4 separate regions of the Homo sapiens genome follow, and all the other regions are reported to be linked to region 1. Evidence: microRNA targets listed by miRTarBase, many of them from high-throughput screens and not tested one by one. Region 1 holds a microRNA gene; each other region holds the end of a gene's coding sequence. Distances are from middle to middle.

Evidence for each region. Region 1 holds the annotated microRNA hsa-miR-548h-5p (AAAAGUAAUCGCGGUUUUUGUC, at 4,224-4,245, shown strand). A microRNA usually pairs through its seed, bases 2 to 8, with sites in the 3' UTR of a target mRNA and lowers its output. Matches are read on the target gene's strand: a 7mer-m8 pairs with bases 2 to 8, a 7mer-A1 pairs with bases 2 to 7 and ends in A, and an 8mer does both.
Region 2: miRTarBase lists XKR9 as a target of hsa-miR-548h-5p. Seed matches in the 3' UTR shown: 7mer-A1 at 2,012-2,018 and 7mer-A1 at 2,176-2,182.
Region 3: the mRNA of SETD7 is a reported target of hsa-miR-548h-5p. Seed matches in the 3' UTR shown: 7mer-m8 at 5,440-5,446, 7mer-A1 at 5,400-5,406 and 7mer-A1 at 3,338-3,344.
Region 4: miRTarBase lists MAP2K4 as a target of hsa-miR-548h-5p. Seed matches in the 3' UTR shown: 7mer-m8 at 5,250-5,256 and 7mer-A1 at 4,790-4,796.

The regions. Positions count from the first base shown.
Region 1 is chr17:13,540,719-13,547,841 of GRCh38, reverse strand. It overlaps MIR548H3 (microRNA 548h-3), which reads left to right and starts at 4,196; the gene lies at 4,196-4,313. All of the region lies in intron 1 of HS3ST3A1 (heparan sulfate-glucosamine 3-sulfotransferase 3A1), which reads left to right.
Region 2 is chr8:70,733,305-70,740,427 of GRCh38, forward strand. It overlaps XKR9 (XK related 9), which reads left to right. Exons shown (of 5, transcript NM_001011720.2): 5 at 492-2,638. The coding sequence ends at 1,120. Among named protein-coding and RNA genes, the nearest start is that of XKR9, 68 kb to the left of the region's middle.
Region 3 is chr4:139,505,433-139,512,555 of GRCh38, forward strand. SETD7 (SET domain containing 7, histone lysine methyltransferase) reads right to left here. Exons shown (of 8, transcript NM_030648.4): 8 at 606-6,411. The coding sequence ends at 6,231. Among named protein-coding and RNA genes, the nearest start is that of SETD7, 47 kb to the right of the region's middle.
Region 4 is chr17:12,139,885-12,147,007 of GRCh38, reverse strand. MAP2K4 (mitogen-activated protein kinase kinase 4) reads right to left here. Exons shown (of 11, transcript NM_003010.4): 11 at 3,180-5,861. The coding sequence ends at 5,748. Among named protein-coding and RNA genes, the nearest start is that of MIR744, 62 kb to the right of the region's middle.

The DNA of each region.
Region 1 (7,123 bases):
GAGTTAAGGGCTCAGTCCCTCCCACAAGGCTGCCCCATATCAGATGCTAATCCCAAGTCCCAGGCCTCCTGTACTTCTGACTGACTGGCTAAATATCAAGGGTTCTCATAACCCCTTTCTTAGGTTCAATAATTTGCCAGAACAACTCACAGAACTCAAAAAAGACTGTACTTATTATAACCAGTTTATTGTCAAGAATACAACTCAAGAACAGCCAAATGGAAAAGATGCTTAGGGCAAGGTGTGGAGGAAGGGCATGGATCTTCCCATGTCCTCTCTGGGTGCACAGCCTCCCAGCACCTCCGTAAGCTTTCTGAACCCTGGTTGTTTAGGGGCTTTTATGGAAGTTCCATTACATAGACATGATGAACTAAATCACTGGCCATTGTTGATTAGTTCCAATTCCAGCCCTTTCTCCCCTCCATGGAGGTTGTAGGGTGAGGCTAAAAGTTCCAACTCCCTAATGGTGCGTTGGTCTTTCTGGCAACCCGTTCCCCTGAAGCTATCTAGGGGCCCCCCAACCATCAGTCATCACATTTACTTGCAAAAGGCACTTATTACTCCCAAAATTCCAAGGGCTTTAGGAGCTGTGTCAGGAACTGGGGACAAAGACCAAATTTTTTTTAATGATCACAGGACTTTAAAAGGAAAGACATAGTGTTAGATGCTATGGGGAGGGATGAAGTTGAAGACTTATTTTCTTCCCTTGAGGTGAATGGGAGTGATGGATGGGTCTCTGTGTAAGACATGTGGTCATAGAATTTAATAGCCAAAAGAAATTTGGTAATCATTAAATCTAATGTATATTCTGTGACGGGTTCCTAGGCAACTGCAAAACATGAAATTCCATGGTTAAATAAGTTTGCTAAAAGTTGCATACCATATGAAGTTTTATACTGCTTAGTAGCCCATCGGAAGGTCTGAAAAGTTTTAGAGTAAAGATTAAACACATTTTTCTCAGCTCTCCCTACACTTGTCTCCAGAATCCCTTTTATCATGACACAAGTATTTTCATTTATTCAACAAATATTTATTGAACAACTGCTGCTTGGCACTGTACTACGAAAAGTTGGTGTTCTAGAGGACACAGTTTGAGAAATGATGATCTTGTCCAACTTCAGCGATTTTCAGGTGAGCAAATTAAGTCTATGAATAATCACATTTTAGTCAAAGGAGGTAGTTAAAGAGAGAGGCTGAAAGAGGGGGTGCCATTTCCATAGGGAAATCAGTAGGAAAAATCTACTGCAAGATAACGGCAATTAAGAAGCGTAATATGGGCTGGGCGCAGTGGCTCACGCCTGTAATCCCAACACTTTGGGAGGCCGAGGCGGGTAGATCACGAGGTCCGGAGATCAAGACCATCTTGGCCAACATGGTGAAACCCTGTCTCTACTAAAAATACAAAAATTACCTGGGCGTAGTGGCACACGCACTTGTAATTTCAGCTTCTCGAGAGGCTGAGGCAGGAGAATCTCTTGAACCTGGGAGGCAGAGATTGCAGTGAGCCAAGATCACGCCGCTGCACTCCAGCCTAGCAACAGAGTGAGACTCCGTCAAAAAAAAGAAAGAAAGAAAAAGAAAAAAGAAACATGATAAGGAGTTGTAGAAATGGTTTCAGAGGCAGATTCATTTTTTCCTGGGAGTGGCATATAAAGATAAAGGACTAGATAAGATGAAAGTGCTTGCATCTTAGTGGTGAGGAGTTGGTCCACGTGGTAGACAGTCAATTTTATGAAGTCAGAGAGGGCGGACAGGTGGAAATTAGTCAGATAAATGCACATACGCACTCTCTCTCTCAAACGACCCCCAGAGCTGGCAAGAGGCTGGAGATCAGATTCACCTGGTACTTTTTTTTAAATTATTTTGAGAAGGAGACTCGCTCTGTCACCCAGGCTGGAGTGCAGTGACACAATCTCGGTTCACCGCAGCCTCTGCTTCCTGGGTTCAAGCGATTCTCCTGCCTCAGCCTCCTGAGTAGCTGGGACTCTATAGGTGCGCACCACCACACCCGGCTAATTTTTGTATTGTTATTAGAGAAAGTTTCACCATGTTAGCTAGGCTGGTTTCGAACTCCTGACCTCAAGTGATCCATGCGCCTCGGCCCCCGAAAATGCTGAGATTACCACCTGATGCTTTTTAGCATTTTGCTGGATGTACTGAGTGATGCAGACATGAGCAACGGAGGTTTCTCCCGGGACTCCGTGGAGGAGGTGATGCAGCCGCAGCTCCAGGATCAGCAAACACTGGTGTCCTAAGCATAGTGGGGTTATTTCAGATGTCACAAAACCAAAATCTCTGTGGCCCAGTGGAGTGTAACAAAAGATACACAAACCTCTTCCATGCAGAGAGATACATAGCTCTCCGGTATAGCTAGGGAGAAAGAAGGAAAGATTTCTCAGATGGTGAAGGCAGGCCAATCGAAGAGAAAAGGCCAGAAATAAAACTCCACCACGATGAGAAGCAACCTCTGTGAGGAGTTACTGGGGGAAGAGTCCCCTGTGGAATGAGCACTGATGTCTCCATTCATTGTGCAGGTCCCTCTCACACTGCTTTCATTACTTGAACACTATCTGGTGTCATTAAGATATCAATTTTATTTAGGTATATCTGCATTGGCAGTTTAATTATGTCTGGGTAAGGCCCGATATTTATTCATGGGTGATCTTGGTAGTTGTCAGACACCAGCCTGAAGATAAAGGCGTCCATGCCTGAGGAATGCTAATGCTCCCCAGCCTGTCATTTGACAAGCGCACATGCCAGTTACTACCAAACTGATTATTTCAATCATTAACAACACATGCATCAGCCTCCTTCACCCGAGATTGCCACGTGCATTCATCTTTTCATAAACAGTTATCTGACAAGGGTGCTGAGAATTGATGTTCTGGGGGGAATTGCCCAACTTGCCTTAGCTACGGATGCAGCAAGCTGAACGCCCCGCTTAGCATCGTCATTTCATTAATCAGATTAGCACAACGCCCAATTGAGTGAGCACCATGTTCCTAAACAATCTCCAATCAGGGTTCCTTTCTGTTGTCCATGCTGGTGGCTGCACTTTTTTTTTTTTCCTGGAGGGTTCAGCTTTGCAGATCCTCTTAGAAAACTTGGATCTTTGCTTATCCCACCACCCATCCCATTTATAATAATTACTCTTGTTCCAAGGAGCAGGGTGCGGGGAGAGGCTCTGGGTTTGTGGAGGCGCCATCTGCTCCTTATTGCTCACCTGAGTCAGAGCCTCCTGACATCACTTCTCTGCAGCAATGAGAGCCAGATATCCACACAAAGAGGCTGGGGCTGTGCCAGACGGCGCAGGGCCTGAAAAGTGATGAATGAAAGAAATGTGAAACAGTAAAACTGCTCCCAGGCAGCGAGCCCTTCCTTCAAAGGGTGACTCACAGAAAAGGCAGTTTTGCCTTAGTTAGGAAGGTCGTCCCAGACCCCTACAGCTGAAGGACTAGCATTTGTTTCTCTACACTCACAGCTTGTGCAGATCGCATCTCACCCATCAGGGAAAAGAGAACACTCTGTTCAGTTTCACTAAGGCTTTTTGTTGCTCTTCTTCTTATGATGTAAGGCAAACTTCCAGGGTTTGGGTTTTTAATGGTTTTATATGATTACCTTTTCATGAGAAGCACAGTTATATTTATATTTTTAAAGCAAACCCAAAGTAAGAAAAAATGTATATATTTTCATCATATGAATGGAAAGCATTATATATTTTTTCTTTTCTTGGAATATTTTCATTTGATGACACCAATGGCATGATGATGATGATAATGTTTTCTATTTATTTGATGCTTTACTAATATATTCTTTTCAATTTTCACAAAAACTGTACTTTCTTTTTAAAAAGATTTTTGGAAACTGAGATGAAGAGACTTTGGGCAACTTGCCCAAGATAATGAGCTACTTAGTGGTAACCCTTGATGAGAGGGTTTTAAAATCCTACTTTTACCACTTAAAAGTCATCATAGAGTCCTGGTAGTCCAACATTCTTTGTGATGCTTCGGAATCCAGATCGATGGTTATTTATGAGATGGGATCTTACCCACTTTTGTTATGTAGCTCATTCTCATTCTTCTTTTGAAAAGCTTTAACAGTTAAAAATTCCTTTTTTATCATTGAGACAAATTCCTTATTTTTTAAAACATTTCCAACCAGTTCTAGATTTCCTTCTAGATTCACAGAGAACAAATCTGATTCTGCATGTATTAGGTTGGTGCAAAAGTAATCGCGGTTTTTGTCATTGAAAGTAATAGCAAAAACTGCAATTACTTTTGCACCAACCTAAAAGTAGTCACTGTCTTCAGATATTTAAAAACAGCCATAATGTCTTCTGGAAACTTCTCTTCTTCAGACTGATTCCAAATGTTGAAGTTGTGGCACTGTATTAGTCTGCTTGGGCTATGTCAGAGAAAAAAAAATATTTTTTCTCTACTTCCACACATCTCTCGATATAACACTTCTGACACTACATTCTCCAGCACACATCATCTGGGTGTCTTATTCAATTCAGTTCCGACACCATCAACCTGTAGACAGCATCAGATATCATAGGTTAAGGGCTCAGTCTCACAAGACTGCCCCCCACTTTAAATGCTTGTTGCGATTAGTATACCTCTGATTGATTATCTGGCTATAAATTGGGGTTTTCCATGAACGCTTCATTAGATTTGTTTAATTTGCTAGAGTGGCTCACAGAACTCGGGGAAACACTTATGTTGACCCACTTATTACAAAGGATATTACAAAGGATACAGAGGAGCAGCCAGATAGAAGAGATGCATAGGGCGAGGTATGTAGGAAGGGGTTTGGAGCTCCCAGATCCCTGGTTGCACCAACCTCCAGGAACTGCTGTGTGTGCAGCTCTCTGGAAGCTGTCAGAACCCAGTCTTGGGTTCTTGTAGAGGTCTCATCACATAGGCATGATTGATTAAACCACTGGCCATTGGTGATGAACTCAATCTTCAGCTCCTCTTTCCACCCCAGAGGTGTGTGTGTGGTGGTAGTGGGGGAGCTGAAAGTTTCAACCCTCTAATTACAACATTCCCCTGGCAACCATCCCCCATCCTGAGGCTATCCAGGAGCCCCCAGCCACCAGTCATCTCATTAACATTCACAAAGAAATTTATTGCTTTAGATTCCAAGGGTTTTGGGAATGATGAGCCAGGAAACAGGAAGACCAAATATCAAAATATGGTAGCCTGTGATATTTCGAAATATCACAGGCTACCATAACAAAGTGCCACAGGCTGGGGGACCTAAACAACAGTTTATTGTCTCACAATTCTGGAGGCTGGAAGTCTGAGATTGAGGATGGGTAGGGTTGTTCTCTCCCGCGACCTCTCTCCTTGGCTTGCACATGGCCACCTTCTCTCTGTGTCTTCACACAACCTTTCCTCTGTGCAGACATACTCCTGGTATCTCTTCCTCTTCCTTTAAGAACACCAATTCTGTTGGATCAGGGATCTACTCTTCCAACCTCACTTAACCATTTTTTTTTTTTTTTTTTGGAAACAGAGTCTCGCTCTGTTGCCCAGGCTGGAGGGCAGTGGCGCAATCTCTGCTCACTGCAACCTCCACCTCTCCCGAGTTCAAGTGATTCTCATGCCTCAGCCTCCCAAGTAGCTGGGACTGCAGGTGCACGCCACCATGCCCAGCTATTTTTGTATTTTTTATAGGGATGCAGTTTTGCCATGCTGGCCAGACTGGTCTCAGACTCCTAACCTCAAGTGATCCACCTGCCTTGGCCTCCTAAACTGCTGGGATTACAGGCATGAACCACTGTGCCCGACCCCTCATTTAACTTTAATAACCTCCTTTAATGCCCTTTAATCTTCAAATACAGTCACATTGAGAGTTGAGGCTTCAACTTACCAATTTTGAGGGGATATAATTCCGTCCATTCCAGGTATCAATGAAGTCAAGGCATCCATTCCTTCAACATGCTTTACTACATGTACAGAAACCACAGCAAGTCAAGATTGTTCACAGTTGAAAGAGGTTTCTGGAGGTGTGTGAACCATCTGAACTTCATCCTCTTTCTTCAAGTAGCCTTCAAGATTTGTGCCCACTGAACGAATGCTATGGAAACTGCCAACAGATGACCATCTGGTCACGATGTTCAAAGGCTCAACCTAAACAACATTGAAAATTACCAAAACTAAGGCAAAGGGTATGATTCTACTAAAGAAAGAGACTCCTTAAGGAGCAAGAGTCTCTAGGAACTGACTCTTCAGCAGTACTGAATGTAAAATTGGAATAACCACCCTCTCAAATCTCAGAGAAACTGGACTTAGGGCTCTTTTTTTATTAGAATGTGTTTGGGAAGGTGGACAGGGTGATTGTATCAACTGGCCCTTCCATTCCCAATGTGTGTACCAAGAGCGAGTGAGACAGTGATGAATTACCCAGGATGAGGTTAGAATAATTTAATAAAAAGAGGTGGAAATGGGGTCTTTAATTCCTAACCTTTTGAGCTGTGGCTAAAATCCATTAATAGAACATGGATTAAGAGTCCAAAGTAAGATTACTCAGCATCACCCGCCAGTGAATCACTCTGGCACTTGGGTCAGAATTAATATCTGAGAATTCTTTGAAACTTTATGGCTGGAATTTTTCTTTCCCCCTGGCTTGGCTTCTTTTGTAGTCTTAGCCTCTTTAGCAGAGGAGATAGGAAATCTTTGGCATCCATTCAAAAACTCATTCAAACCACAGAGTAGAACTTTAAAGGAGGCCTTTGGGGATATGTGGGGTCAGTTGGAATAGTTTATATCATAGCTTTCAGTTTAAAACAATTTTTTACAGCATCAGTAGGGAGAATTATATCACAATACATAAATAGATTTAGCAGGATTTACAAATCCACATGTGTTCCCTTAAGCAGTAGTTTTCAAATATTTGATGACCTTAGAACTCCTAGTTCAAATGAAATTTTACACTGAAGTGAAAATGAACACTGATAAAAGGGGAGTTTCTCTGCTTAAATAAGGATGTGAGGTCCCAGAGATCCCTTCTGCCTTTCCCTTTTGCTCTTTTGGGTAGCCCCTAAGGGGAATGAATGCCAAGATCTTCCAGGAAGATAGATTGAATGCTTTTTCTCTAGGAGACTCTTGTTCTACAG
Region 2 (7,123 bases), not on the chromosome of region 1:
TTCTCTCTCTCTACCCCTCCTCCTCTCCTTCCCTTACCCCTGCTTGAAGCTATTATCTCTTAGTGAATTGGGTGTATGCCTAAAATCACAGTCAAAACATCTAGAAAAACTAGGATTATAACTGTAGTCTCTTAACTCACAGAGTATGCTTTTTTCAGTATATCAGTTGCTCAATAAAATTTGTCCCATGAATTTTTAAAAAATCATAATAAAACAGTCTAATATAGTGGATAAATCTATCCACTTTGGAATCAGGTTCAAATCTCAGTTCTGCAACTTACTAGCTTTGCAACTTGGGTCAAGCAGTGTATCTCTCCAAGTCTCAGTTCCCCCATACATAATAATATCTACTTCAAAAGATTAGATGAGAAGAGTAAAGTATGTGACGTGTTTGTGGGTGTGTGTATATAGATATAGCATGTATGGGATATAGTAATCTAATATTTCTATTATTCCTATAACAATATATTTTTTATTTTTTTGTTTTGTAGATGCGGCCATCATGGTCTCTTGCTGTGCTATTTCTTGGTCAACTGTTGATTATCAAGTAGCTTTAAGAAAATCCTTGCCTGACAAAAAGCTTCTTAATGGATTATGTCCCAAAATCACATATCTCTTTTACAAGTTGTTTACATTATTATCGTGGATGCTGAGTGTTGTACTTCTACTATTCTTAAATGTTAAGATTGCTTTATTTCTGTTGTTATTTCTTTGGTTGTTAGGTATAATATGGGCATTTAAAAACAACACCCAGTTTTGTACTTGTATAAGTATGGAATTCTTATATAGGATTGTTGTTGGATTCATTCTTATCTTTACATTTTTTAATATTAAGGGACAGAATACCAAGTGTCCAATGTCTTGTTATTATATTGTTAGGGTACTGGGCACTTTGGGGATATTGACTGTATTCTGGGTTTGCCCCCTCACTATTTTTAATCCAGACTATTTTATACCTATCAGTATAACTATAGTTCTTACTCTTCTTCTTGGAATTCTTTTTCTTATTGTTTATTATGGGAGTTTTCACCCAAACAGAAGTGCAGAAACAAAATGTGATGAAATTGATGGAAAACCAGTTCTAAGAGAATGTAGAATGAGATATTTCCTAATGGAATAAGCTATTCATTTATGATATATATTTTCTTATATTTTGTTTCATTGGTTAGTAAAGAAAATGTGTGTTATGTGGGTGTGTTGTCTCTTATTTTTGCCACCTTTAATTTGAAATTAGTTCAGTGAAATAGGAGATACATAGTAGTATTTTATTTTTAAAATTAATTTCTCATTTGGTTTTGAAGATCTTGAGTACTCAGATATCTTTCTACTGCCTGGTAGAGCTGCCATCTTGAGCCTGAAATATAAGAAATGGTCTGGTTTTCATAATGAGAAGGCTGGAATTGAGCTTCCCTCCCATTTTCCTTGTTCCTGAACTAATACTACTGTACCTGTTATGGAGGACTGCAAAGGGAAGAGAAAAGCAGAACACTGTATTATTTTTTCCTTTATTGTCTTCAGTGCATATATTTGCAGTTGGGGACAGGTTGAGTAGAGGAAAAGGGAAAGAAGGGAAAGCAGAAAACAAATTTTTAGCATCTGCTGTGCTTTCATCCATGAAATCTCCAATTCAGTAAGTGCAAAAGAGAATTGGTGTGCATCTGAGAGGTCTGACATTTCATTATTTACTTATTTCCTAGCTTTTCTGAATTAATGCACTCTTAACATATAATTATATTAATCCTATTTGTGCTAGAATAGTTGTATCTAAATCATATTTTAAAATTATTTTTATTTTTAAAAAATTATGGTAAAAACATATAAAATTTACCATCTTAATCACTTTGAGTGTACAGTTCATCAGTGTTAACTGTATTCACCTTGTGCAACAGATCTCAAGGACTTTTTCACCTTGTAAAACTAAGATTCTCTATTTATTGAACAAATCCCCATTTCCTCCTTCCCCAAGTCTCTCTCAACTGAAATTATAATTTTTTGTTTCTATGAGTTTGAATACTTTAGATACCTTGTTGCCATGGTTTGAATGTGCCCCCCAGATTTCATGTGTGTGAAACTTAATCTCCAAATTTGTATGTTGATGGCATTTGGAAGTGGTGGGGACTTTGTTTATTTATTTATTTTTAATTTTTTAATTTTATATTATTATTATTATTATTATACTTTAAGGTTTAGGGTACATGTGCACAATGTGCAGGTTAGTTACATATGTATACATGTGCCATGCTGGTGTGCTGCACCCATTAACTCGTCATTTATCATTAGGTATATCTCCTAAAGCTATCCCTCCCCCCTCCCCCCACCCCACAACAGTCCCCAGAGTGTGATGATCCCCTTCCTGTGTCCATGTGTTCTCATTGTTCAGTTCCCACCTATGAGTGAGAATATGCAGTGTTTGGTTTTTTGTTCTTGCGATAGTTTACTGAGAATGATGATTTCCAGCTTCATCCATGTCCCTACAAAGGACATGAACTCATCATTTTTTATGGCTGCATAGTATTCCATGGTGTATATGTGCCACATTTTCTTAATCCAGTCTATTGTTGTTGGACATTTGGGTTGGTTCCAAGTCTTTGCTATTGTGAATAGTGCTGCAATAAACATACGTGTGCATGTGTCTTTATAGCAGCATGATTTATAATCCTTTGGGTATATACCCAGTAATGGGATGGCTGGGTCAAATGGTATTTCTAGTTCTAGATCCCTGAGGAATCACCACACTGACTTCCACAATAGTTGAACGAGTTTACAGTCCCAGCAACAGTGTAAAAGTGTTCCTATTTCTCCACATCCTCTCCAGCACCTGTTGTTTCCTGACTTTTTAATGATTGCCATTCTAACTGGTGTGAGATGGTATCTCATTGTGGTTTTGATTTGCATTTCTCTGATGGCCAGTGATGGTGAGCATTTTTTCATGTGTTTTTTGGTTGCATAAATAAATGTCTTCTTTTGAGAAGTGTCTGTTCATGTCCTTCGCCCACTTTTTGATGGGGTTGTTTGTTTTTTCTTGTAAATTTGTTTGAGTTCATTGTAGATTCTGGATATTAGCCCTTTGTCAGATGAGTAGGTTGCGAACATTTTCTCCCATTTTGTAGGTTGCCTGTTCACTCTGATGGTAATTTCTTTTGCTGTGCAGAAGCTCTTTATTTTAATTAGATCCCATTTGTCAATTTTGGCTTTTGTTGCCATTGCTTTTGGTGTTTTAGACATGAATTCTGTGCCCATGCCTATGTCCTGAATGGTAATGCCTAGGTTTTCTTCTAGGGATTTTATGGTTTTAGGTCTAACATTTAAGTCTTTAATCCATCTTGAATTAACTTTTGTATAAGGTGTAAGGAAGGGATCCAGTTTCAGCTTTCTACATATGGCTAGCCAGTTTTCCCAGCACCATTTATTAAATAGGGAATCCTTTCCCCATTGCTTGTTTTTGTCAGGTTTGTCAAAGATCAGATAGTTGTAGATATGCGGCGTTATTTCTGAGGGCTCTGTTCTGTTCCATTGATCTATATCTCTGTTTTGGTACCAGTACCATGCTGTTTTGGTTACTGTAGCCTTGTAGTATAGTTTGAAGTCAGGTAGCGTGATGCCTCCAGCTTTGTTCTTTTGGCTTAGGATTGACTCGGCGATGCGGGCTCTTTTTTGGTTCCATATGAACTTTAAAGTAGTTTTTTCCAATTCTGTGAAGAAAGTCATTGGTAGCTTTATGGGGATGACATTGAATCTATAAATTACCTTCGGCAGTATGGCCATTTTCATGATATTGATTCTTCCTATCCATGAGCATGGAATGTTCTTCCATTTGTTTGTATCCTCTTTTATTTCACTGAGCAGTGGTTTGTAGTTCTCCTTGAAGAGGTCCTTCACATCCCTTGTAAGTTGGATTCCTAAGTATTTTATTCTCTTTGAAGCAATTGTGAATGGGAGTTCACTCATGATTTGGCTCTCTGTTTGTCTGTTATTGGTGTATAAGAATGCTTGTGATTTTTGTACATTGATTTTGTATCCTGAGACTTTGCCGAAGTTGCTTATCAGCTTAAGGAGATTTTGGGCTGAGACAATGGGGTTTTCTAGATATACAATCATGTCATCTGCAAACAGGGACAATTTGACTTCCTCTTTTCCTGATTGAATACCCTTTATTTCCTTCTCCTGCCTAATTGCCCTGGCCAGAACTTCCAACACTATGTTGAATAGGAGTGGTGAGAGAGGGCATCCCTGTCTTGTGCCAGTTTTCAAAGGGAATGCTTCCAGTTTTTGCCCATTCAGTATGATATTGGCTGTGGGTTTGTCATAGATAGCTCTTATTATTTTGAGATACATCCCATCAATACCTAATTTATTGAGAGTTTTTAGCATGAAGCGTTGTTGAATTTTGTCAAAGGCCTTTTCTGCATCTATTGAGATAATCATGTGGTTTTTGTCTTTGGTTCTGTTTATATGCTGGATTACATTTCTTGATTTGCATATATTGAACCAGCCTTGCATCCCAGGGATGAAGCCCACTTGATCATGGTGGATAAGCTTTTTGATGTGCTGCTGGATTCGGTTTGCCAGTATTTTATTGAGGATTTTTGCATCAATGTTCATCAAGGATATTGGTCTAAAATTCTCTTTTTTGGTTGTGTCTCTGCCAGGCTTTGGTATCCGGATGATGCTGGCCTCATAAAATGAGTTAGGGAGGATTCCCTCTTTTTCTATTGAGTGGAATAGTTTCAGAAGGAATGGTACCAGTTCCTCCTTGTACCTCTGGTAGAATTCGGCTGTGAATCCATCTGGTCCTGGACTCTTTTTGGTTGGTAAGCTATTGATTATTGCCACAATTTCAGATCCTGTTATTGGTCTATTCAGAGATTCAACTTCTTCCTGGGTTAGTGTTGGGAGGGTGTATGTGTCAAGGAATTTATCCATTTCTTCTAGATTTTCTAGTTTATTTGTGTAGAGGTGTTTATAGTATTCTCTGATGGTAGTTTGTATTTCTGTGGGATCGGTGGTGATGTCCCCTTTATCATTTTTTATTGTGTCTATTTGATTCTTTTCTCTTTTCTTCTTTATTAGTCTTGCTAGCGGTCTATCAATTTTGTTGATCCTTTCAAAAAATCAGCTCCTGGATTCATTAATTTTTTGAAGGGTTTTTTGTGTCTCTATTTCCTTCAGTTCTGGTCTGATTTTAGTTATTTCTTGCCTTCTGCTACCTTTTGAATGTGTTTGCCCTTGCTTTTCTAGTTCTTTTAATTGTGATGTTAGGGTGTCAATTTTTGATCTTTCCTGCTTTCTCTTGTGGGCATTTAGTGCTATAAATTTCCCTCTATACACTGCCTTGAATGTGTCCCAGAGATTCTGGTATGTTGTGTCTTTGTTCTCGTTGGTTTCAAAGAACATCTTTATTTCTGCCTTCATTTCGTTATGTACCCAGTAGTCATTCAGGAGCAGGTTGTTCAGTTTCCGTGTAGTTGAGTGGTTTTGAGTGAGTTTCTTAATCCTGAGTTCTAGTTTGATTGCACTGTGGTCTGAGAGACAGTTTGTTATAATTTCTGGTGTTTTACATTTGCTGAGGAGAGCTTTACTTCCAAGTATGTGGTCAATTTTGGAATAGGTGTGGTGTGGTACTGAAAGAAATGTATATTCTGTTGATTTGGGGTGGAGAGTTCTGTAGATGTCTATTAGGTCCGCTTGGTGCAGAGCTGAGTTCAATTCCTGGGTATCCTTGTTAACTTTCTGTCTTGTTGATCTGTCTAATGTTGACAATGAGGTGTTAGTCTCCCATTATTATTGTGTGGGAATCTAAGTCTGTTTGTAGGTCACTCAGGACTTGCTTTATGAATCTGGGTGCTCCTGTATTGGGTGTATATATATTTAGGATAGTGAGCTCTTCTTGTTGAATTGATCCCTTTACCATTAAGTAATGGCCTTCTTTGTCTCTTTTGATGTTTGTTGGTTTAAAGTCTCTTTTATCAGAGACTATGATTGCAATCCCTGCCTTTTTTGTTTTCCATTTGCTTGGTACATCTTCCTCCATCCTTTTATTTTGAGCCTATGTGTGTCTCTGCACATGAGATGGGTTTCCTGAATACAGCACACTGATGGGTCTTGACTCTTTATCCAATTTGCCAGTCTGTGTCTTTTAACTGGAGCATTTAGTCCATTTACATTTAAAGTTAATATTGTTATGTGCGAATTTGATCCTGTCATTATGATGTTAGCTGGTTATTTTGCTCATTAGTTGATGCAGTTTCTTCCTAGCCTCGATGGTCTTTACAATTTGGCATGATTTTGCAGTGGCTGGTACCGGTTGTTCCTTTCCATGTTTAGTGCTTCCTTCAGGAGCTCTTTTAGGGCAAGCTTGGTGGTGACAAAATCTCTCAGCATTTGCTTGTCTGTAAAGTATTTTATTTCTCCTTCACTTATTAAGCTTAGTTTGTCTGGATATGAAATTCTGGGTTGAAAATTCTTTTCTTTCAGAATGTTGAATATTGGCCCCCACTCTCTTCTGGCTTGTAGAGTTTCTGCCGAGAGATCCGCCGTTGGTCTGATGGGCTTCCCTTTGTGGGTAACCCAACCTTTCTCTCTGGCTGCCCTTAACATTTTTTCCTTCATTTCAACTTTGGTGAATCTGACAATTATGTGTCTTGGAGTTGCTCTTCTTGAGGAGTATCTTTGTGGCGTTCTCTGTATTTCCTGTATGTGAATGTTGGCCTGCCTTGGTAGACTGGGGAAGTTCTCCTGGATAATATCCTGCAGAGTGTTTTCCAACTTGGTTCCATTCTGCCCGTCACTTTCAGGTACAGCAATCAGATGTAGATTTGGTCTTTTCACATAGTCCCATATTTCTTGGAGGCTTTGTTCGTTTCTTTTTATTCTTTTTTCTCTAAACTTCCCTTCTCGCTTCATTTCATTCATTTCATCTTCCATCACTGATACCCTTTCTTCCAGTTGATCGCATTGGCTCCTGAGTCTTCTGCATTCTTCACGTAGTTCTCGAGCCTTGGTTTTCAGCTCCATCAGCTCCTTTAAGCACTTCTCTGTATTGGTTATTCTAGTTATACATTTGTCTAAATTTTTTTCAAAGTTTTTAACTTCTTTGCCTTTGGTTTGAATTTCCTCCTGTAGC
Region 3 (7,123 bases), not on the chromosome of region 1:
ACAAAAATGAGCTGAGTGTGGTGGTAAGCGCCTGTAATCCCAGCTACTTGGGAGGCTGAGGCAGGAGAGTCGCTTGAATCCCGGAGGTGGAGGCTGCAGTGAGCCAAGATTGCACCACTGCACTCCAGCCTGGGTGACAGAGTGAGACTTCATCTCAGATTAAAAAAAAAACGGAAATGTTGACTGTGATTAGGGCAGGAATAAGGGATTGCCAGGGTTCTCAGCTCAGACTCATCCTCAGACTGCCAAAATCTACCACAACGTCTAACAAAATTTCTATATTTTCTTTAAATCATGAATTGAAGTTTCCTTTCAGCTATTTGCCCTGATCATCTCATTTGCATTCCATACCCTTACCATGTATGTATTCAATCCGACACTTTCTGTTGGTGTGGCTAATCCTTCTGGATTTATGGGTGTATGTGGAATCATATCAAATCCTCCGCTCTTACTAGAATGCTCTGAAAATGATAAATGGCTAATAATATTTTAAAACAACTTAAAATGTAAAGTTCACTTAGTAATTTAAATATACAGGTAGACACATTATAAGAAAACCATTATTGCTTTTCTAACCTAGATGACCAAAGGAAGACAATGACAGATGATTGTATATTTTGTTTAATACTTGCATTGTTTCTATAGCGCAATTATAGCAATCTTTAAATTTACTTTCATTACAAATATTTGTCAAGTTTTGTTTCAGAAACATTTTTCCTACTCTCTTGCATCATGCACCCAGACACACTACAAAAAACTCATTCATAACACAGTAAGGGCAAACATTATTCATGTAAACATCTTTCATTAATTTCCCATAATTTAAAAAAATCATAGAATTATAGATATTGAATAAGGCTCATAGTTTTAGTTCAAATTCCACAAGAGACCAAAGATGCTCGTTAACCGTGATGGGGTTAACTTTTGGTTGCAATAAATGCTGAAAGCATACCCCTGGCTTCTACTTCTTCAACATACCTCACAACCTAATAAATGTATTTCAGGATAAAGAGAGAACATAGAACACCCAGGAGGAAACTTTTGAAGAAGGGAGCTCAGAATCATGGACATAATTTTCCTATGTGATAAGCAGGTATTACGTAGTCCCTGTAGCTTCCCAATACATGAATCAAGGTTAATTATCATAAACCAAAATGTAACCAAGTAGATATGTTGATACATTGGCATGTGTGTTCGTATTGCTACTATACACAGTGAAAATTTATCCTAATATGTATCATTTCATTATATCCAGGACCAAAGTGGAAAAAAAACCCCACTCAAGTTGAATATCATCATAAAGGAGTTTTTGTTTGTTTGTTTTTTCAATAACATAAGAGTCAGGAGAGTTGGGAGGTATGTCCTAGGGATGTGATTGACTCTTGACATTTAACAACTTTGAACAACTGTGTGTAAAGTCACAGACAGAGGAAGCAAGGATTTTTGTTATCGGAGGACGTCTCTCTCTCTGGTTGGAAGTTTGGTGCTTGGGTGCATAGTCTTCCAGAGCTGAGACAGGAAATGTACTGTGCTGAGAAATGGGCCCCTTGCCAGATGCTCCCCTCTCCTTCCTCTCTGCGAGGCAGAAGTCAGAAGGTAGAGATTGCTGGCAAAACTGTGAAGTCCCACCCTGGGGTCTCAACCCCAACTCCACTGAGGGCAGCCTCCCTGACGTGTGTGACTAGGCAGTAAGGGTGGCGGTTGATGGCGGCCGGGAAACCGAGTTTCGAGGTTCACATGGCCAAGTCTGGCTTCTGATTCTGCTGCCCTGCAAAGAAATTGTGCTCCAGATAACTGCACCGGTGTCTCTAATGCCTCTGATTCACTCTCAGGCCCCTCAAAGGCCTGCAGTGATATCACTAAAAGGTGAACACACCTCCATTAGCACCTAACTTCCACCAGGAAGCGGCTGAGGCACTGGGGAAGCCTACGAGCTCTCTCCACGTCAGGTGCAACAACGCCGAGGAAGTTGCTGAGAGTCAGAGTTATTGTAGGCTTTTGATTTTTAAAAATCAAAATTGATCTGCATTACATCTCAATAGACTCAGATAATTCTCACCAAAATTTTTGTAATGTGTTTAAGTAGCACTGGAATAATTCAACTTCATTTAAATATATTCATTCTATCATGAAAATATTTCATACAAACATCTATTTACATACAAACACATTAAAATTTGTGAAAAGGGTTCCCACCCCTGTGGTTGTATGGCTTGAAATAGTTTCATTGCTTTGAATATGTACGCACACATTTGGCAAAAGAAAACTATTACAATTTAGTATTTTTAAAATTAAAAAAAGTGACAACGAGTTTCCAAATTCCTGAAGGGAAAGATAAAAGAAAAACAATAATAATCTATCAAGGTACCCCAAGTAGATGTAAATTTGATATACTTTGTGAACCTTTGATCTGTGGCAAATAAACATTACAACTGTCAGTCTTGCAACATAGTTTTGCTTGTTTTTCTAAAACAAAAGATATCTGGATTCTAAGTCACTACTCTTAAGACAGAAGCTTGAGGCAACTGTTTTAAAACAAAGCAAAACAGAAAATGATACCTCTACCTTCTTGGAAGATTTTAAATGCATGTTGCAGTGAGTGATTTAAATTTTTATATATTAAATGAAATTTACGAAAAGTGCCACATACTGTCTCCTGGAGAAGACAACCCTTTAATTCACTGTTCACAATTAATGCAATTTTAATAGTTATATTTAAATGTTAAAAATTGTTACATTTGGCCTCATTGGCCTTTCTGGGTGGGTCGTTGGTGATAAGGAAATAGTTTTTCGAGTGTGAAGAACCCCCATAGGGCAAATAGGTTTAACTACAGTCCTAGACAGGTTCAAAGAGCTCTTGGAAAACTAATTTCCTTCTTAGTGTCTCAGGTAGATCAAGGATGAAGCAAGTTAAAATAAGAATAGGTACTACAAGACTCAAGAACTCCTCACTGCTTTCTTTTTGATCCCATCATTCCTTTGTGTCGGAAATTCAGTCTTTCCAGTTGTTTTTGTTAGTCCATTCAAATGTCCATTTGGGGACATGCTCCTACAGGTTAGTTCCTATTCCTAACTCTAACACAAGATAATATTTCATCACAGAAAAGATGCTAAGGGAAGATCTGGTCATGCAGGAGTTGGACTGAGACAGCTCTGAGTGAATCTCCTTGAGATTACAGTGTCGCACACACACATAGGCTCCCGCTGTTTTTCAGGAGAGCATAAAGTTATTTCTTTATTCCCCACCACATGGAATCTTCCACGTCTGCTGTGATTCTGATGCGATGAAATGACCAGATGCAGCGGCTTCCTGACACATTTCCTTCCCCAGCAGATGTAAAGTAGAAAAATACATTCTGAGTATTCTTTTCCACTTGCGTTTAGGTTCAAACGGGAAACAAACCCTTCCGTCCTCAGCTGTTAATTCCTTATAGAACCTCCACTCCCTTGACTTCTTTCCCTACCTACAGAACTCAGTGAATCTCAAGCCTTACTCCGATTCCAACCTGCCACAGAGCCTTACATTTGGGAGTATGTGTGTGTGTGAGGGGAGGGGTGGGGAAGACAGAGCCAGAGACATAAGCAAACAGAGAGGCACACACAGAGGAAAAGCCAGATGAGCAGAGTCCCAAAGACATGCACAGAGCCAGAGAGACTCAAGAAAGGTCAGTGCAGGGGACTTGGAACAGGGAACAGGAGAGGGCAGCTGGGGCTGCTGTTACCCAGGATGCCCAGGCGTTCTCACATATGCAGAGAGAAGAGGAAAGAGAGCCGGCCAGAGAAAGAAGAGCTGGAAGACACAGAGAGTATGAAGAGAGTTGGGAGGAAGACATGGTGAGGCTCAGCGTGGATGCATTGCTTCCTCTGATTTGCGTGGAGGTCACAGACACACTGCTGAGTTTTAAGCTCAGAGTGTTACCATTCAATATCTCATCTGAAGAACTGATTAGCAGACTAATCACTACTTACAACTCTTCAATTCCTTCTATCCAATGTTGAAAAAAATTCCATTTGAATGGGATAATTAGAGTAGCCCCCACTTAGGACGTAAATTGTACCCCACTGCAGCCAGGACCAGAATGCTATCACTCTCAGGAATGAAATCATTCAGAGCATAGCTGCATCGGGGGCATGACCAGCACTATCCTCTCCCTGACCGTATTCCCTGACCTGGCTGCACAACCCACTTGATCGAGGTTAATGCAAGCCATCTTTCTCCTGAAGACAGTCACTCCCTTTGGGCACATTTAAATTAAAGCACCTATCAGAATGCAAGTCCAGAGGCCCTGGCCCATCCGTCACAGTGTATAGAACGGTCTCTTTCTACAGAGTAAGAGTGACCCTATCCTGGTGCCTTTAAATCTAAAAACTATTCAGTTCCTTTGGTGGGCAATCTTCCTGGAAGCACTGACAACTTCCTCTCATGGGTGAACCATTGGCTTAAGCTTTCAAGCAGGGATCCAACTGGATCTCCCTGAAACCACTGCCACCTAGCTGCAAAGCATGCAACCGGGTGCTCTAGGAAGCCTGGTGTTGCAAAGAAGGGAAGGGCAACTCTGTCAATGTGCCCAAGGGCCACCTGAAATGAAAGTCATGAGCAGCCTGGGATTAAGCACTTTTGTTGTAGTCTTCATAAAGCAATGTGCAACTGACAAGAAATAGCAAACTTCCTTCTGCCTATGTCCTCACTCTTCTTCCACTGAAGCCTTCTCTCATCAGCTGGAGCTCACTATCTGCTACAGCTTGGAAGGCCTTCGCTTTCCAGACCAAACTGACTCAGGTGACAGGAATCACAGCTGACAGCTACAGATCAGCACAACAGCTGCTCTCCAGTCCTTCCAGCCGCTGCATCGAGGTGTCTAAAAGAGACAAAGCTATGGCATGTGGTGAGGGTGCTTATAAAAAACAAAACTCTCAGGATTCATTCAGAGCAATCCCAGTGATGTTACAGATCTAATTAGCTAAACTAAAAAAACAGGGGTTTTCTCCTTATTTCTGCAGTTGTGATTACACATGGCTGGCAAAATGGCTGAAATGCTATTGATAGTGTTGCTTTTAAACTATACAGGTGTTCAGTCTTAGTTTACAATGTTTTGAAGCAGGTAAGTGCTTTGAAATTACAATGATGAAGAGTTTTAGCATCAAGGTTTGATTTGTACCTAGTAATCAGTGTGTCTGCCTTAGTAGTACTGACTAAAAAAATTTTTTTTTGAATTCTGTTAGAATTCAAATTTGCTGTTTGACTTTTGAATTCAATGCACTGTGCCACAAGCCTGACCGCGCTATGTTATGTACATTTAATGTGTACTCAAGGAGGAAAAAATTACTAGCACTACTGAAAATATTGCAAAATTGCCATAGTTACCGCTTAGAGATACTAGTTTTCTTCTCTTCTTTCTTAAAGTATATATTACAACTCTTCCATAACTTAATGCAAACAAAGTAAATTCATTTCTTCTCACATCTTAAAGCAAAGATATCTTTGTTTACATGCGAGAATAATATTCTATAATAATACCCTGGCCCTATGAGCCAGTACTTTATATTAGGACATAATAATAAAATGATGATATAGAAAGAACCAGAGAGACCTACACACTGCTATTGATGCAAAAATCCATTTGGAAGTTTTCTCTTGTAAAGGGTATCTAAGAAAGAGAATAGGGCTGAGGGGTGAAATGACTTTAGAAGTGGGCTCCTATTTACTAAGAAAAAAACCAAAGCCATTCTATTGCAAGATACAGATCAAAGGTTAAAAGGCAAATTATACTACATTTAGAGAATAAAGATGTAGTAATTGTCAACCCTTAATACGGCACATATGCAAGTGTGCTAACACAATTTGCACTGGCCATAGGAAAAAAGCACTATGGAAAAACCACTGACTAAAAATGACTGAAAAACCCCGTTTCCCTGTTTCAGTCTAATCATTTGGCATCTCCGAATGTGGTACAGATTTAGACTTGAACCACCAAAGAACATCACGCTGTCTTATGTCAAATGCTCGACAATACCTCTCAGTAGGACGTTGTTGCAAGGCTAGCTAATTTTAAATCTGGTATGAGTAATACAGTCAAACCTAGTTAGTATGCGAGAAAGTCGTTGCTAACGCATGGTGAGAGGATGTGACGTCACAGCATGAGCAGTCCCTGGTTGTCCCATTGTCAGATAAACGTAGTGCATAGATCCAAGTTTCTATTCCAGGTCTCTGAACCCCAAAGCCAGGCCTTTCACTTTTGCTGGGTGGCCTGGAAGGCCTTCAGCTCCACCTGGTACCACTCAGGGGCTTCAGGCCCACTCTTCCCGGGGGGGCTGTGGTCATAGCCATAGGCAACGGTGAGCTCTTCATCGGCCTCCACTGCTCTCAGGGTGCGGATGCATTTGATGGGCCCAAAACGGGGGTGGACAAACCTAAACATCAAGATGCACACAGTCATTCCCGGGCCAGACCAGGAGGTTGGAAGCAAAGGCTAGGGAGGGGCTGATACAGGAATCACCCCCAGGCACTCTTCCCTGGGCACACCTGGTATGTGCCCAAAGTGTGGTCACCCAGCATCAGTTTCACCCGAGAGCTTATTAGACATGGAGCATCTCGGCCCCATCCCAGACCTGCTGGATTGCAATCTGCATTTTAGCGACACCCCCAGGCGATCCACTGGTGTATTAAAGTTTGAAAAGCACTGCTCTGTTTTTTAAAGCATATTTGGCACCTTGCATTTATAAACCAACAATCATGATCAACAACAAAAATCTGTCGTTAATGAGAAATCAGATCCAGTGCAGCCCGCCAGCATTTGAGCTTGTCTGGCCAGCAGCATCAGATTACGTGGCTGTATCTCAGGGAGAAGGCTTCACCAGAGTGCTTTTGGAGTTGTAAGAAAGAGCCCTGTGGATTTTCAAAGGCAAAAACTCTGTATTCCACCCTATACATAGAGAGGAAATATTATTTTCTAGCATGAAAGTAGATGAAGATTTCTTCCCAAGAGGGAAGTCTAGACCTCTCTGCCAACCTGTTTATTTAGTATTTCCCTGTGAAGCATCCTATGAAGAGAGCAGTATCTCCTTCCTACAACAAGTCCTCTTGGGACCAGAAACGAGGTTAACACTATGGCTATGTTCATTT
Region 4 (7,123 bases), 1.4 Mb from region 1:
GTGAAATACCATTTAGGATTAAAAGTGAGCAGATGATCAGTAATGTTGCTTCTAATCATGTGCTAAAGGCAATTTTCCAAAGGAAAATGGCTCCAGGGGTTAGAATAAGTGTCGCAGGCAGGAATCATATGTAACTATCAATCTTTTGCTTTTAAACCTTGTAATTCATCGTCAAACGGGAAGCACAGTTTCATAAAAATCCTAACAAGCCAGGTGTGGTGCCTCACGCCTGTAATCCCAGCACTTTGGGAGGCCAAGGAGAGTGGATTAGTTGAGGCCAGGAGTTTGAGACCAGCCTGGCCAACATGGTGAAACCCCATCTCTACTAAAAATACAAAAAATTAGCCAAGAGTGGTGGTAGGTGCCTGTAATCCCAGCTACTTAGGAGGCTGAGGCAGGAGAGTTGCTTGAACCTGGGAGGCAGAGGCTGCAGTGAGCCAAGATCGTGCCACTGCGCTCCAGCCTGGGCAAAAGAGTGAGACCCTGTCACATACACAAAAAGAATCCTAATAAGCCATCAAGAGATCTGAGCTCTATATACCCTCTTGATGTATTACCTTAGGCAAATTACCTAATTATTTAGTACTGTTACGCATGTGTAGGACTGGAGCAACAGAATACCCTTCCTATCTCCTTGAAGAGTGGTGTTCACATTAAATTTGTATAAGAATTAGGAAAAACTGGAAGTCTTAATACTGTTCTTTAGCAGAATGCATATGTAGATAGAAATTTCAAATGCAGACAGAAATTTGATTCATCATGCATTACAATTACTGAATTGTGACTATATGCTATATGGGTTAACAAGTTTTAAATAGCAGGACTACATTTTACATTTAAGATGTATAAATACATTTTGGCATATCAGAAAAACAAAACAAAATGTTATCAAAAGCAGATACTGAACCACTATCTTTATGATTTCAAGGCTTGAGATGAGAATTTCTGGATATTCACGTATCGAAAAGATGGGAAGAACCAAGATATAAAGATAACTTCAGTCTGTACTAAATTACCAGAAGACAAGCTGTTTCCCATTCTACAGGTGTTCCTTCTATGATGTTGTCCAGTGTCAATTTTCCATGACGTGGTTCTTACAGTTCATCCTAAGAGTTATTACTGCAGATTACATTTTCCCTCAACCACTTAATGAGGTATTTAAAACCAAGCCAGTACGTTTAAGACAAAGCCTTTAGATTCTCTGTCCCTCACATCCCAAGCAATAAGCCCAGGAACAATGGATGTGACTGGTGCAGACAGCCCTGCACAAGAGATGGAGACACATAATCTCTACACACTGCCAAGAAAAGTAACCAGTGTCCCAACGGTACTTTCAAGACCTTATGTGTCCTTTCTCTATCCTCCTGCAGCTAAGACAGTTGGATCGAATCAATTAAAGGGAAGTCGGGCATGCTGGCTCTTTGTAATCCCAGCACTTTGGGATGGCGAGGCAGGTGAATCGCCTGAGGTCAGGAGTTCGAGACGAGCCTGGCCAACATGGCGAAACCACATCTCTACTAAAAATACAAAAAAAAAATTAGCTGGGTGTAGTGGCAGGCGCCTGTAATCCTAGCTACTTGGGAGGCTGAGGCAGGAGAATCACTTGAACCTGGGAGGCAGAGGTTGCAGTGTGCTGAGATTACGCCATTGCTCTCCAGCCTGGGCGACAAGAGTGGGACTCCATCTCAAAAAAAAAAAAAAAAAAGAAAAGAAAAAGTTACCTAGGTGTGGTGGTGTGCACCTGCAATCCCAGCTACTCGGGAGGCTGAGGCAGAATTGCTTGAACTCCGGAGGCAGAGGTTGCAGAGCCAAGATCACATCATTGCATTCCAGCCTGGGCAACAAGAGCAAAACTGTCTCAAAAAATAAAAAATAAATAAAATAAATGAAAGGGCACTTTACTCATTCTCAGTGATTGCCACATTATCATGCTAATGGAGACGTTCAGTCCATGACACTGAATTCTCAGGTGTTTGCACTGAAGAATTACAACCTAGAGTTCCTCTAGTTAATTCTAAGGTAATTACACAGTTGCCTTTGTATGGATCGCTTTGTATGTTAAGCCCCACTGTGGCCCCCAGAACCTCTGCCTTCAACTCATTTCCAAAACAACAAAGCAGGCCCTGGTCAGGTTTATGAACAGAGTATCCTCAACTATATTCATTCTTCCACTTCTCAACTCCACAACACTTCTTTAATAGCAGTGTTTTTAAATTAATGTAACTTCTTAGGGTACGTGTTACGGCCTTGAATTTGAATCTCAGCTCTGCTCCCTACTGTTATTTGAGCCAGAACTTCACTCCTTCGGACCTTGGTTTTCTTGTATCTAAAAGGGGATACAGCCACTTGATTTTAGTGGGATGCATTTGGAATCAAATGAGATGAACAAATACAAGGCAGTGTCCTATGAAACATGGAGTGTGTAGTCTATCTCTCATGCCAGTATTGAAACCCAATGGGTACCCTTTCCCTTAGCAGCTGAGGTTAGCTGGAGAGGCCAGAATTCCTGCTTTCACACCCCTCTCAGGGGAATGTTTGATACCACATCTGGCTGTGTAATAGTATCTCAGGTACAGTTAGGAGCAGGCACAAGGGCAAGGTGCTGAATCACCATAATATCAATGAATCTGTTATCTGATCAATCACTGGTAGGAGGTAGAGTACAGCAGATACATTCAGTGCTGGAGCCGCAAAGTGCTTTTCTCCAACAGTTTTCAGGCTCCCATGGCTTTTTGTTCACTTCCATTGTCCTCTCATCCATAAACCTCCCATGTCTGACCTCCAGACGTCTTCTACCCACAATCCTCCCTACCCTTCTAAGGTAACAGTGAGTGATTCCAACCCAGTATCTAACCTGACATCTAATGCTCACCTGGCAGCTGAAGCACCAAGAGCGGAGAGCATGGCTGGAAACCATACACGGGGCCCAGATAGACTTATAAGTTGTACCTCTCCACCATGACACAGGTTGAAGAACTGTACCCACTTCCTTTAGCATTAAGAATGCTGGGGCAGGTCAGGACAACAAACAAAGAAACTCAAGAGACTGTGACACCTGTTCAAGCAAAGCTATGCTTAACAGATACATCTGTGGTTTCAAGAAGGATAAGCAAAAAGGGTAGCCATGGGAAGGAAGAAGAAAAAGAAAGCAGCCATAAAACACTTCCAAAAGGAGGTCATTTTCCCTGGTGTGAAATGCACAGATAATTTAATGTAATTTACTTTAAGATTTTCCCCTCTCAGGGTCTGATTTCAGAAAATCAAATTACAAAGTCATCATCACATCCTAGATTTATTACAACTGACCTGCAGGCAAAAGGATAGAACTATTACATAAACACTTCGATTCCATGTATATATCTTAAATAGAGGAGGAATTCAAACAAGAATACAGGATAAAATATTCCAAAGCTCCAAGAAGCAGTTATGTTACTGAGCTCCATTTTTTACAGACAAATAAGGCAATATCCCTGCACATTAGCTTTTTGATAATTTTTATACATTTTTCTATGGTACAAGAGAAAAATAACCAGAGCTCACAATGTACAGTTCTTACACTATTTTCACAGTTTGTGAACACTATACACCCTTTTGTTTTAATAAAGATACATTGTAATAAACTCCTTGCCCTTAAGTTTATAGTTTATAATAATCTATGATTAATACACTAAAATTGCCTTCTTATGTGGTCATCCACACAATAGAACGGTCAGATTAGCTCCTGGACAGTCAGAATTGCTTTTATCTCCATTTGCATAATGGCAAAGTGACCCTATGCTGAGCCAGATGGGAAGTTGACAGCAGAGAAACAGATTCCTCTTGAGTCCCCGGGAGCAATGGAGGATGATGGCTTGCTGTGGTCGAAGGCAGACATAGAGCAATGTCTCCTTTCAGAACAGTGGGAAGTCTAAAGTTTAGGATACCGTGGGGGAGAAGATAGGGAAATGAGGCAAGTAGATCAAAGAGATAATCACTTTTGAATTCTGCAATTTACAGGGATGTGACTTTAAACAGCACCATTCTCCCTTTATTGTTTGACAGTATTTATGACTGTCACTCTGAGAGGAGACACAGCAATACGTGCCACGATTTGGTTCTGTAATGGCATCACCTGCATCTCAGGCCATGACTGTTTTATATTCCAGTGTGCTTGAACCACTCACAGTGCTGCTTCACTGTCATACAAAGCCTAAGGTTCAGTGCCAGGGAGGCCCAAGCAAAACCTAATGAGAACCTGGCTAATGGGTAAGTGAAGAAGCACAAGATACTTAAATGGCCTCTTGTAACAGTGCTGAGGGTTTTGTTTTGCTTTTTGTATTTTTTTCCAGTAGAATTCCAATGCCAAGAAATGGTGATGGACTACGAGAGGTTCTAGCAGGTGATGAACGTAAAGGCTGCCGTTTCGGATCCTCATCTGGTCCAATGTGTCTCTAGAAAAGATGCCTCTTTATCACCTACCACATCGGCTGGGCCCCACTATTCTTAGCCTTTTAAACACTAGCGAATATGAGAGATTTGGGGCTAAAAATCCTTGGTAAGGAACATCCCTGCTAACTGTAAAGGTTTTTTGATATAGAAAAAAGGCAAAATATTGGATTAAGCGCAAGTCACATAGCGACAATAGACCACAGGGGAAGGGAAAGAGATTCGGAAACTGAAGACCTGGACCAGTGATGGCAAGAAGCAAACAACTGAGATTTGGTCTTTTGCTGCCTACTAGAAATCTTTATCTAATCAATCAAGGCACATTGCTACTAGCTACTTCTCCCTGTTAGTGAGTTATGATGGCTAAAGTATCAGGCTTGGGACCAAGGGGAAATATATAGCTGCTACAAGTTGTTCCAGATAAAATACTAGAATTAAAAACATCTGTAAACTTTGCCTTCTGTACTGTTTTCTTCTTTCAGTCCTGGTGGTTTGTGGCAGGTGGAACATCAAGTTGGCAGCACACCGAATTCTGAGAATGAAAAATTCTTAGGATCAGCACCTTCTTTGACAAGTGGCAGACTCCTGAGTCTTCCCATTGAAAAATAGGACTGGTAAAGGAGAAAAGAACACATTCTGTCCTGTCTCTATATTTTAATGTTCACCTCTTTGAACGCAACATGGTTTTTGGTAAAGATAAATTCATTCTAATTTAACATGATATTTCAAACAGGAAATTTGGCTGAGCACATCGATCCCCAAACATCAACTGTAACTGTAAAGCAACAGAATATCACATCAGTAATCTATTGCACTTGGTGAAGAAAGTAAATTCCTCCTTTGTCTCCCAGCTCCAGAAGGCAATGTGTCTCGTTGGCTGTGCAAGCTCTTCTCACTCAAGCCCGAGTTTCTATGTTCAGACATAGTACATTCATCACTGTGTCCTTCCAGGATTTGGAAGTCTGACAAAACACCATTCCAGTAGCTGCATCTCCAGGTTTTGAGTCTAGAAATGAATTTAAGATGTGATCTAATCACAGTCAACAACTTGATCGTACTGACTTCCACATTTCATGAATATGTTCATCACAAAAGAGCAGGATGAGGTCTCTCTGACCAGCACTAACACTGTGTGATCAATCAGGTATTACAAGGATGCACGTTCTAGGTGACAGGAGTATACAGACATGATGGAAACGAACACCAATCTTATTGCACATGGTGTCTGGGCGAGCAATAAAAACACTGTGATACGGGATGAAAATTCTTTACGTCTTGCTTCCTCTCAGCCCTTTTTTCTAGAGTCTGATGTAGCAGCGATATCAATCGACATACATGGGAGAGCTGGGAGTAGCTGGCATTTGATCCAGGATTTTACAAACATAGCATGCGACCTCAACGGCACGTTCTTCATACATCAAAATAAAGGGATGTTTCTGCAAGAAAATTGAAAACAAAAAAGTCAAAAGTTTGTATGACAGCCCAAACTGAACATTTTCCAATTTCTATAGAACATAGAACTCCAGGCTCCCAACCACACATAGCTATGAAATACCGCAACACTACAAGTTCAGAGAGGCGAGTACAGCCTTTATTCCATGCAGATATGCTAATGGGCATGGGCATGCCTAGAGAGAGGATACGTGGTAATGATCTGAAGGTGCCACCTTGGCAGTGAGGTCTGGAAACTCATCTGTATACCAGGGAGTGTTTGTTGAGGAAGACAGCCAAGTTGTCACTCAGCACAAAACATAGCTGGAGCCTCCACCACACCATCTAAGAGCTAAGAAGAATGACGCAAATGCCAGTCACTATTCCTCTTGGGACACCAATATAAATCTCAACCTCCATTTCTCCTATATACAACAGGAGGACCTTTTTACAAAAAGGTCGCAATCCTTTTGACCTCTTCTTTTGACCTTTTAACAAAAAGGCTGTAATTCTTTTGACCAAAAGAGGCCCAAGAGAAATTTGCCCCAGGAGCTTCTTCCCTGTACTCTCCAGAGCCAGGGTCCCAGTATCTGCTTCACTAACCCACCTTTTAAAACTCCATCTCTAGCAACAGTTTTCTTTTACAGACTAAGTATGTTGACTAGATATTTTTACAGTCATTGGTGGACTGTGATATAAGTTTGTCACAACATCCTTGAAGAGCTAGTAGTTAAATGTGACAAACAAATGGATCTTTTCTTAAAATATTCCCACATTATTAGATCACAACACTTTCTCCCTGCCCCACCAATGCCATACCCAGTAGACTGCTTAAAACACCCAAGTTCCATGGGATGAATGAGAACTTTCAAAGAAATGGGAATAGGCTATATGACGTAAATTTGCATGAATTTTATAAAGGCAGAATAAACACAAATTTTCACTAATTTTTTTCTTATGGCTGCATCCCATATAAATAGACTATGCAGTGGAAAATGGCTTCTTAAAGTCAGAATTCTTTGGGGGTAATTTTTATAACATGTTAAGACCAAAATTTTCCATGAGAATTTAGCTAGTATTAGTAGAAAAATTATAACTGCAAATTTTCTCTTTCCAAATCTTTGTGTAAAAACATTAACAAAAAACACTCAATAAATTTGAGATGTTTGTTTATGACAGAGAGGCCCACTGCTTGCTTAGTGAACCAGCATGTTAAGAGAGTTCCGGGGTTAGGATGTACCTACAATCCCCACAGTCCCACACTCAC